2 separate regions of the Homo sapiens genome follow, and region 1 is linked to region 2. The links come from fine-mapping of genetic effects on gene expression. Tissue or cell type: whole blood. Region 2 holds a variant in brackets; the other region holds the start of a gene. All regions are shown on one strand. Distances are from middle to middle.

The links. PIP is the estimated chance that this variant, and not a neighbour inherited with it, causes the effect.
Region 1: TBC1D22B starts here. The variant in region 2 is fine-mapped to the expression of TBC1D22B in whole blood (INTERVAL, PIP above 0.99).

The regions. Positions count from the first base shown.
Region 1 is chr6:37,255,523-37,260,522 of GRCh38, reverse strand. It overlaps TBC1D22B (TBC1 domain family member 22B), which reads right to left and starts at 2,751. Exons shown (of 13, transcript NM_017772.4): 1 at 2,550-2,751. The coding sequence starts at 2,605. It overlaps TMEM217B (transmembrane protein 217B), which reads left to right and starts at 2,379. Exons shown (of 2, transcript NM_001395378.1): 1 at 2,379-2,955. It overlaps TMEM217 (transmembrane protein 217), which reads left to right and starts at 2,379. Exons shown (of 3, transcript NM_001286401.2): 1 at 2,379-2,955. RefSeq lists enhancers at 1,749-2,384, 2,471-2,530, 2,631-2,690 and a silencer at 2,791-2,920.
Region 2 is chr6:37,325,962-37,331,205 of GRCh38, reverse strand. It overlaps TBC1D22B (TBC1 domain family member 22B), which reads right to left. Exons shown (of 13, transcript NM_017772.4): 13 at 1-162. The coding sequence ends at 34. Among named protein-coding and RNA genes, the nearest start is that of RNF8, 25 kb to the left of the region's middle. The variant TA/A (reference allele first, on the strand shown) is at 2,163.

The DNA of each region.
Region 1 (5,000 bases), 71 kb after region 2:
GTACACTTTAAAAGAGTGAATTTTATGGTATGTGAATTATATCTCAATAAAGCTGTTATTTTTAAAAAGAATGTTTCATTCATTTGCAACTTCTTTTATTTAATAAAATTTCTATTTGTTGTCACTAAGATTGTTGGATCATGATCAGACAAATGGAAAGAACCCTGTCATCGCTTTTATTTTTCACCTTTCAATTTGCAAAGAAGAGTAAACTAGTTTCATTTCCAAGTTTGCATGCATCCAGTAGAGTCATTTGTGTCATTTCCCCACCCAGGAGAAAGTTTTTCTTCTCTAAGACCGAAAGAGTACAGATGCAAAAGTTCTATTCTTGAGAAAATGCCCTAACATTTTCTTTAAACCAAAGTACCTTTCTATCTAAAAGAACCTTAGTTTTCTCCTATGACCAGAGGCTTGTGGGCTTCACTGCTAAAAGCACACAGCTGAACAGTATTTCTCTTTACCAAGTAAGGTACTAAAAACTATTATGAATTGTGACAATATTTGAATACCTTAAACAACGAAGACAATGAGCTGGGGTAAGGATCTGAGTAACATTATTTTAAATGTTTACTTGCTGTAATAATGACAGCAATGTTAATAACTACTGTTTTTTTGAGCAACTATAATGTGCTAAATAAACACTGTCCTAGGCTCTTTACAAATAGGGTATTTCACTTAGTCCCCACAGTAACTCTGAGGAAAGTATTTTTATTTCTCATTTCATAGGTAAGGAAATTGAGGCCTAGAAAGATTATTTGTCTTGGTCACACACACAACAGAGCCCAAATAGTAACCCAAGTCTTTCTGAACTCGAAAGTTCTCTATTTCTCTATATTCTTCAAAATGAAAAAGGAATCCAGAAACTTGAAGAAACTGAAAAGACTTCTCTTCCTATCTCAGAAAAGTAGTGCTTTAAAAAAGTTGACTGTTCTTATAGCCAAATACAGGAAATATAGGAAAAAAAGATTGTTAATAGCAACCAGCAGTCAGAAGGCACAGAAGCCCATGCCACGTCCCACATCTCTTACACTGCTTCCTGATACAACAGTCTTCCTATTGATTATGATTATAATCTTAGGATGTCAAAATTTAATGATCTCACTACGGAAAACCCCAGAGAATAGCAGTTAGCACAACTAGAGAGCTCACTAGACCAGGAAGGAAAAGGAATCAGTTGGCAGGAAGTGTGCTTACCTAAAAACACAGAACATCTTTAACAGTAATATTAACACTGTTGAGTCCACAGCACTTTAATCTGAAGTTATCTTTGCATTCCTTTCTATTACTTTAATAAGTATTACTAAAAGCTGATTTCCACCCTATTCTCCATATGTCTACTAGAATCCTTAATAAAATAAGACTCTTGGTGGGGCATGGTGGCTAACGCCTGTAATCCCAACACTTTGGGAGGCCAAGGCAAGAGGATCACTTGAGGCCAGGAGTCAGAGACCAGCCCTGGCAACACAGTCAGACCTTGTCTCTATTTCATTTAAAAAAAAAAAAAAAATTAAGGCTCTTACCTAGCCACTACTGACCCTCATCTCTCTCTCGCTTAAAAAAAAAAAGTCACGAGTTCAAAAGATTATCCCAGAAGGAAAAAACCTGAATCCATTAGAAAAGGTAGCACAGGGGACACAACCAAACATGAATTTCATCACCAAGTAGACTGTAGCTGGCAGAAATCTTAAATTTACGACTGAAATACACACTCTTCCTTATACTTCTCAGGACTTTGCCCAAAATAAACTGAAACAGTAAACCAACAGTAGATTGATGGATGGATAATTTGCCAAAAGTCTCAACATACACCGAAAAGAGGGTGGGGGTAGTCTTAGGGGGTCTGCTCTCCAGTTAAACAACTGAAGAATGAACGAATTTAGTGCATTTGCACAAGAAGTGCATTACAATGCAGGGGAGGAAGAAGTCACTTGGGGTTGGACAAATCCTTAGAAAATGCCAAAGGAATAACCCTGATTCTGTGGTCGTCTTGTAATAATTCCTAGTGGGAAAGGGCCAACTCAAGATAAAGTAAGGTCAGGGTTGAGAATCGTCCTCACTTTTCCTGCCTAACCCTCTCGGCAGGCGGCCCCAAACTCCCACCGGAATCCTTCGGGTAAGTGCCGACCTCAGGGATCAAGGGAAGGGGCCATCCTCGAGCGACCAACCACCTGTGCGTGGTGGAGACCCCTGAGAGGGAGTCCTAATTAGAGTGGGAAGCAGCTCTGGGGAGGAACTTCCGAGACCAGGGCCGACACTGACTATTCACCCAACTCCACTCCCCTTTACGCCCAATCTTCGGCCACCTTCCCGCTGAGGTCACCCCTCCTGAAACCTCCGCCCCCAGACCCCGGTCTACACCCACATCCAGCCGTCCCCAAAGCTCGCTGTTCGCTTCGCTGCCTGACAGCTGCCCTGCCGCCACCAGGCAGTCCCAGCTTCCCCAAACCAGTCTTCTGGCCTCTGTGGCGCCCCAGGCCCGCGGGATTCAGGGATTAGGATCTGGAAGGGTTTGGTCCAATCCCCTATCCCTCTCAGCGTCCTGGGCTCACCTCCCCGGCAGCTTAGCGCTCCTCTTCCAAAACTGCTTGCTGTTCTCAGCGGCCATTGCTCTGGCCGGGGGAAGTCCTTGTAGGCGGGCCAAGGGTTTGCCCGGCGAGATGCCCCCAGACCCCGCAATCTGAGGGCCAACCCAGGCCGCTTCCCCGCCGCCGGTCACCCGCTCCCAGCTCCTGGGGACGCCATCTTGGATGTGGGCACCCCTCCACCCAGCACCGCTGCCATTGGTGAGCTGCGCAAGCCGTGGACGGGCCGACCAATTGGGAGCCGGAATCCTGCAGGCCGCTGAAGCCGACCGGTAACGTCAGGGGCTGGGCACACAGGTGGACGGGGAAGGCGGAGCTTGGACGAGCCGAGAGGCGGGGCTCAAAGTTCCTACCCGCGAGAGGGAAGAAGCAGGTAAGGTAAGGGACCTATGGGAAGGAAGAGGGGATTATCTTCTTCGTGAGGAATGAAGTTCCTTAGTCTAATATTTCTTGGCAAGAGAGAACATACTATGTATTTATATATAGGAATCTTTCACCTAAAAGTAAGGGCCCATGTGTTGGTTGTGGCCCATTTTTAACATCTCTCAATTCAATGACACTCTGGTTATTACCCTCCTTTCCTCATTCCGTTTACATGTCCATTCGTTTTTCTGAAGGAAGGTCAGCAGGGACCCGATAGCCCGGGATTGCTAACTGTTCAACACGTGAGCAACGGTTCATCAGAGTCTCCCTCTCCCTCTGTTTATTGAAAACGATTGAAGGACTTGTGCTGTGGGTTAAAAATTCAAATGATCTAATCCCTATGTCAATCCATAACTCTCACTTTCTGACTATGCTAACAGTGTATATAGGAAATGGTTTATGATAGCTGTCCAACTCAGATTACCAAATACCATTTCTTTGAAGGACACAGTATTGCTCCATCGTGTGAATCACAAAGTTAAGGATGTATCTCCTCCCGGCCCCACCAACATCCTTAATTTCCCTTGTTAATCTATTATAAATCTTGCACCCTTGAATTTATTTTCAATCTAATTTTCCCAGACAATGAGATTTAGTATTAGCATTTTGAATCCTTTGAATGTCTTGTCAGCGTTTTTTGCTGGTTTTGAGTTTCTGTGGTTGTATTCCGTGGTGATTTGGGGAAAGAGGGAAGGCGGGCACCAGTCCAGAGTGGTTTTTGTCCCTTCGAAGGACTGTTGAGGTGGGCTGCGTGTCCCCCACCCCCACCCCCACCCTCCATTTACAGCTACCACATGTACTTCCACATATTGGAGAATACTTAAAGACCTGACCCCTGGCCCCAGCCAAAGAAGGACCTTCTTTTATATGTCCTCCAACGACGGTTTCTTCATTACTCCCATTTTCAAGCTTCTTTTGTCCCCTAATTTAAGAATTATAGGATTGGATGACAAGGGCTATTTTTACTTCCTCTGAGTCTTTCATGCTATAAAAGCATCTTATCTTCTTTATGGGCATTTAACCCAGAGAAAAAAAGCCCCTCTATTCTTTTAATTATTTTACTTGCCTTTCTCTGGCGCTTCTTTTTCTTAGGATGCAGTGACCAGCACTGCACACTAAGCCCAAAGAGGGATGTACTGAGGCTTTGTTAAGGCTGATGTTTTGTCTTTATTCTGGACAGCCAGACCTTTTGCTGGCTGTTTGGACTTTAGAAGAGTTGATGTCTTGAAAGAGTAATCTAAAACAACTTCTAGATTCCTTACCTTGGTGGCAACCAGCAGTTCAGAGTTCATTGTCTTAAAGGTATCCTCTGAATTGTCTTTCCCTATGTGAGCTGCCATACACTCATCCATGTGACAAGATACCTGCCACTTTCCAGCTTATGCACATGGCTTTAGAGATGTTCCAGAAGCTGCTCCCTATTGATTTGACATTTTACTATGTGGAAAGCAAAGTATGATTTGTGTATCTAGACATATCTCAAAATACTCCTTTTTCTTAATCTTCTATGAAATGTTAAATGACACTGATTCCCAGGGGGTGTAGTTAACAGTGCTCAACCCAGAAAAGCCCTGTTATTTCTACAGTTTGTTTTCTATATCAGTTTCCCCTCCAAGATTTTTTAAAAATTCACATCAGTTACCTTGTGATGACTTTTTAAATAGGGAAATTGAGATTGTTGGAACCTTTTTCACCACTACCACTTGGTCACCCTAATCTTCACCAACCACACACCTGCTTACAGCAGCCTGCTATTCGGCTCCCTGCTTCCACTCTTAGCCCCTTAGAGTCCATTCCCCATATACCAACCAGAGAGACCTTTTTTTTTTTTTTTGAGACCAGGTCTTGCCCTGTCACCCAAGCTGGAGTCCAGTGACATGATCTCAGCACACTACAACCTCCATCTCCTGGGCTCAAGCAATCCTCCCACATCAGCCTCCTGAGTAGCTGGGACTAACAGGCACATACCACCATGGCCAGCTAATTTTTTGTATT
Region 2 (5,244 bases):
GAAGGCAGTCTGGGTCCCCGGAGGAGACAGCACCTATCGGCGGTAGTGATTTGGGGCATCGGCAAACATGTACTTGAGTCTGTATGCCTCGGCGAGAAGCAGCCCAATTTCTTCGTTGCCCCAGTGTATTGTAGGTAGGTTCTGTAGCAGCATGAGGAGACCCTGGAATGCAAGAAAGGACTTTTATATCATACCAGACCGTAGACCATCAGACAAGTGAACCCATTCTTAGAGACCAAGGCCTAGAATGGGGCCCCTTCCTCCTGGCTCACACATCTCAAAGAGTCCAGCCTCCTTCCTCCCAAACAGTACACAGCTTTCAGTCCTAGTTCACCTCAGGAGGTCTTGAAAGCCTCTGCTGATTCTCTAGTCCACTAACACCTGTCTCTTTAAAAACATAAAAAACATAAATAGGGAATGACAACAATAAAGATTTTTAAGAGAGAAAAATAATCACTTATCCAAATATACCTCTCTTAATCTTAAAGTATTCATTTTCAGTCTTTTCTTCACATGCATATTTCTTTAAATAGTTGTAACAATAATTATGACTTTTTTTTGAGACAGGATCTCGCTCTGTCACCCAAGCTGGAGTGCAGTGACGCAATCACAGCTTGCTGCAGCCTTGAACTCCTGGGCTCAAGTGATCCTTTGACAAAGTTAAAATATAGGCCAGGCGCGGTGGCTCACGCCTGTAATCCCACACTTTGGGAGGCTGAGGCGGATGGATCGCGAGGTCAGGAGATCGAAACCATCCTGGCTAACACAGTGAAACCTGTCTCTACTAAAAATACAAACAATTAGCCAGGCAAGGTAGCACACGCCTGTAGTCACAGCTACTTGGGAGGCTGAGGCAGGAAAATCATTTGAACCTGGGAGGCGGAGGTTGCAGGGAGCCCAGATCGCGCCACTGCACTCCAGCCTGGCGACTGAGTGAGACTCTGTCTCAAAAAAAAAAAAAAAAAAAAAAAAAAAAAAAAAAAGAAACGGACAAAATATTTATAACATCTATAGAAGATAAAAGGTTAATATATGTAATCCATAAGGACTGCCTACAAATCAGTAAGAAAGAAGGCAAACAGCCAAATGGGAAAACAGACTAGCAATGTGAATAGCTAACGCACTAATGCCAGTGGCCACTCACACTATGATGACTTACAAACCCTGCTCCTAGCTGATCCGAATACTCCAGCAGCATTCTGCAGTTCTCAGTGTAAAGGTCTTGTGCATCCTTTATGAGATTTCTTCCTTTAGTACTAGAAGTGTAGCTGGGCACAAAACTGCCCAATGCACATCACTGCTATGTGTGGCCAATACGATTAGGTTCTGGCCAATTCTGGATGTGAACAAAAATGATAGGTGTAACTTCTAGGTTTTGCTCTAAACTTCTCTCCCTCTTAGAAAATGGATATGAATGGAGGAGTAGAAGTGATCATCTTAGACCATAAAGTTAAAGCATGTGTTGAAGATGGCAGAGTAATAAGACAAATCAGAGTCCCTAACACTCCAAAACCATAATGTTAGCCCTGGACTGCTTACACTTAGACTGTTAGTTGAAGGGAAATAAACAACTCTCTTGTTTTAAGCCACTGTTATTTTGAGGTCTTGGTTACAGTAGACAAGTTTATATCATCTTAACAAATACATACCATATCTATCAAAATAAGAAATGCACATGGTCTTTCATCCAGCAACTCTGCTTCTAACTCTCTATCCTAGGGAAATAGTCACACTACTGTGTGTACAAAGGTATTCACTGCATCATTGCTTCAAATAGTGGAGAAAGGATACTAGAAAAGCGTCTGGCAATATGGGAATGGTGAGATAAACCATGGATTATCTGCATCATGAGATGCAAGGCAGCACTTGAAACAAGCGAAGCCGGTCTACATGTATCAGTATATGAAGATAAAGAAGACATTTTGGAAAGGATAAAAAAGGCAGTTGCAGAACAATATTTACAGTATGATCCCACTTAGGTAAAAGAAAAAACACAACAATATATTTGTATATGTACATGTACACATAAACATTTTAGAGAAGTGGGAAACTGTTCACAGTGGTTACCCTTTGGGAGGGAAGCCTTTCACTTTTCTCTCATTATATTTATGTATCTTATAAAATATTTGTGTATTATTGTGTTATGAAATAACTTTTTTTTT[TA/A]GTAATAACTACTCTGGGCTGGGCGCAGTGGCTCATGCCTGTAATCCCAGCACTTTGGGAGGCCGAAGTGGGCCAATCACTTGAGGTAAGGAGTTTGAGACCAGCCTGGCCAACATGGTGAAACCCCGTCTCTACTAAAAATACAAAAATTAGCCAGGCATTGTGGTGGCCGCCTGTAGTCCCAGCTACTTGGGAGGCTGAGGCAGGAGAACTGCTTCAATCTGGGAGGCGGAGGTTGCAGTGAGCCGAGATCACGCCATTACACTCCAGCCTGGGTGAAGCTACTCTGTGGAAATTTTGTTTACTAAAAAGTAAAAAAAAAACAGAAAATAAATTACCCATAACTTCACGATCAAGAGGAAGCCATTTTAAAACATTTTGGCATATTTCCTTCCAGTCCTTTTCCTACATATTTTACATACTTGAAATATTTTCTCTACATAATTTTGAATCTATGCAACATTTACCGTAAGCATTTCCTCTAATATTAAAAATTCCTTGTAGATATTTTCAATATCCAAAGAATTTTCCATGATGTAAGATGTACCAGAATTTACATCCTCCTGTTTTGAGCATTTAATTATTTCTGGTTTTTCACTATAAAAAATTATAATGAACATCTTTATGCACAAAGCCTTATCTTGGATTATTTCCCTAAGCCAAATTCCTAGAAATGAAATTACTATTTCAAAGGGCATAAACATTTTATTTTTATCTATCTATCTATTTATTTATTTAGAGACAGAGTCTTGCTCTATTGCCCAGGCTGGAACGCAGTGGCACAATCTCAGTTCACCGCAACCTCCGCCTCCCAGGTTCAAGCGATTCTCCTGCCTCAGCCTCCCGAGTAGCTGGGATTAGCCATCACACTTGGCTAATTTTTGTATTTTTAGTAGAGATGGGGTTTCACCATGTTGGCCAGGCTGGTCTCGAACTCCTGACCTCAGGTGATCCGCCCGCCTCAGCCTCCCAAAGTGCTGGGATTACAGGCATGAGCTACCGCGCCTGGCCCACCACAAACATTTTAAAGGTCTTTAACATTCAACCAGAAAATATATTCCAGAAAAATGCCCATTTCCCTAGATCTCTACCAGCACTAAATATTCTCATTTAAAAAAAAAACAAACTTTGCTAATGCAAAGTCTTCCCTTTGATCCCCAAGCCCAAGAACAGAACTCAAAGCCGTCATGATGGTGGTGAACCCCCGGAGGAGTGCACATCCCAAGGTCCCCACTCTCCCCTCCATGGTTGCTGGCATCTGCTCTCTCCAACCCTCCAGGCAAACCCCTCCAGTCACATGATTACGGAAATTCACTCAACCAGACCAGTTATTCAACCAGTTATTGATATTCACTCAAGCCAGCAGATGCTCTGCTTTTAAAAACTCTGCCTTTAGCTGATCGGAACATCTTTGGAATATTCCCCTCTCACAGGAGTAATTCCCTCTTGGTTCTATTCTGGCCTCAGTCCTGTCTGCCTCAAAGCTTTTTTTGTTTGTTTTGTTTGAAAGAGAACCATCATTTCTATCTCAACTTATTTTTTTTTTTTTTTTTTTTTTTTTTTTTGAGTCGGAGTCTGGCTCTGTCGCCCAGGCTGGAGTGCAGTGGCACGATCTCGGCTCACTGCAAGCTCCGCCTCCCGGGTTCACGCCATTCTCCTGCCTCAGCCTCCCGAGCAGCTGGGACTACAGGCGCCCACCACCACGCCCGGCTAATTTTTTGCATTTTTAGTAGAGACGGGGTTTCACCGTGTTAGCCAGGATGGTCTCGATCTCCTGACCTCGTGATCCGCCCGCCTCGGCCTCCCAAAGTGCTGGGATTACAGGCGCGAGCCACCGCGCCCGGCCCTATCTCAACTTATTTTTTAAAATGTTGACCTTGGACCATACTACATGCCCCCACCCCCATGCCACCATGTACTCCCTGGCCTCTGGCCCCTTTTACCCATCTCTGCTGCTTCCTACCTCCTTCCCGCACCATGTCCCTATCCCACAACAACTGGAAAAGGTGTTGCCTCTTTTTGCTAACATTCTCCTCAGGTAGACCACTTGTATCCTAAGTTAGGCAGGCTCTCTTTATAATGGTCTCAGTCTTTTCTGTACCTTAGACTCTTGGGCTGTCTGGTGAACCCCATCAATCTCCTCAGAATAATGGTTTTAAATATTAATACATAAAATAAAATGCATACTAATCAATTTTTTTAAAATTTGTGATATTCACCTCTGTGTGGTAAGATTTCTTTTTCTGTTTTTTTTTGAGACGTAGTCTCGCTCCGTCACCCAGGCTGGAGTGCAGTGGCATGATCTTGGCTCACCACCACCTCCACCTCCCAGGTTCAAGCAATTCTACTGCCTCAGCCTCCTGAGTAGCTGGGACTACAGGCATGAGCCACCATGCCTGGTTAATTGTTTTTTATTTTTAGTAGAGACGGGGTTTCACCGTTAAGCCAGGATGATCTCAATCTCCTGACCTCGGGATCTGCCCACCTCGGCCTCCCAAAGTGCTGGGATTACAGGCGTGAGCCACTGTGCCCAGCCTAAGATTTCTTACTGGAATTTTCTAAATTTTTCTATGATGGTTACATACACTTGCAAACTGATAACAAACAAGAACAGCCAACAAAGGACATAGCTCTCTAGAAGAGAATACTTTTTTTTTTTTTTTTTTGAGGCGCAGTCTCACTCTGTCACCAGGCTGGAGTGCAGCAGCAATCTTGGCTCACTGCAACCTCCAACTCCCAGGTTCAAGCGATTCTCCTGCCTCAGCCTCCTGAGTAGCTGAGATTACAGGTGCGCGCCACTGCACCCAGCTAATTTTTGCATTTTTAGTGGAGACTGGGTTTCACCATGTTGGCCAGGATGGTCTTGATCTCTTGACCTCGTAATCTGCCCGCCTCAGCCTCCCAAAGTGTTGGGATTACAGGCGTGAGCCACCGCGCCCAGCCGAGAATACTCTTTGTTGAGATGAGATCTACCTATAATTTCCAATTCTTCCAGTCTTAACAGAAACCTCTCAAAAGCTTCCAAATAATTCCACCCCTGCACAAGTGAATGTCCCCACTTCCCCCAAGGGAAGTGATGCT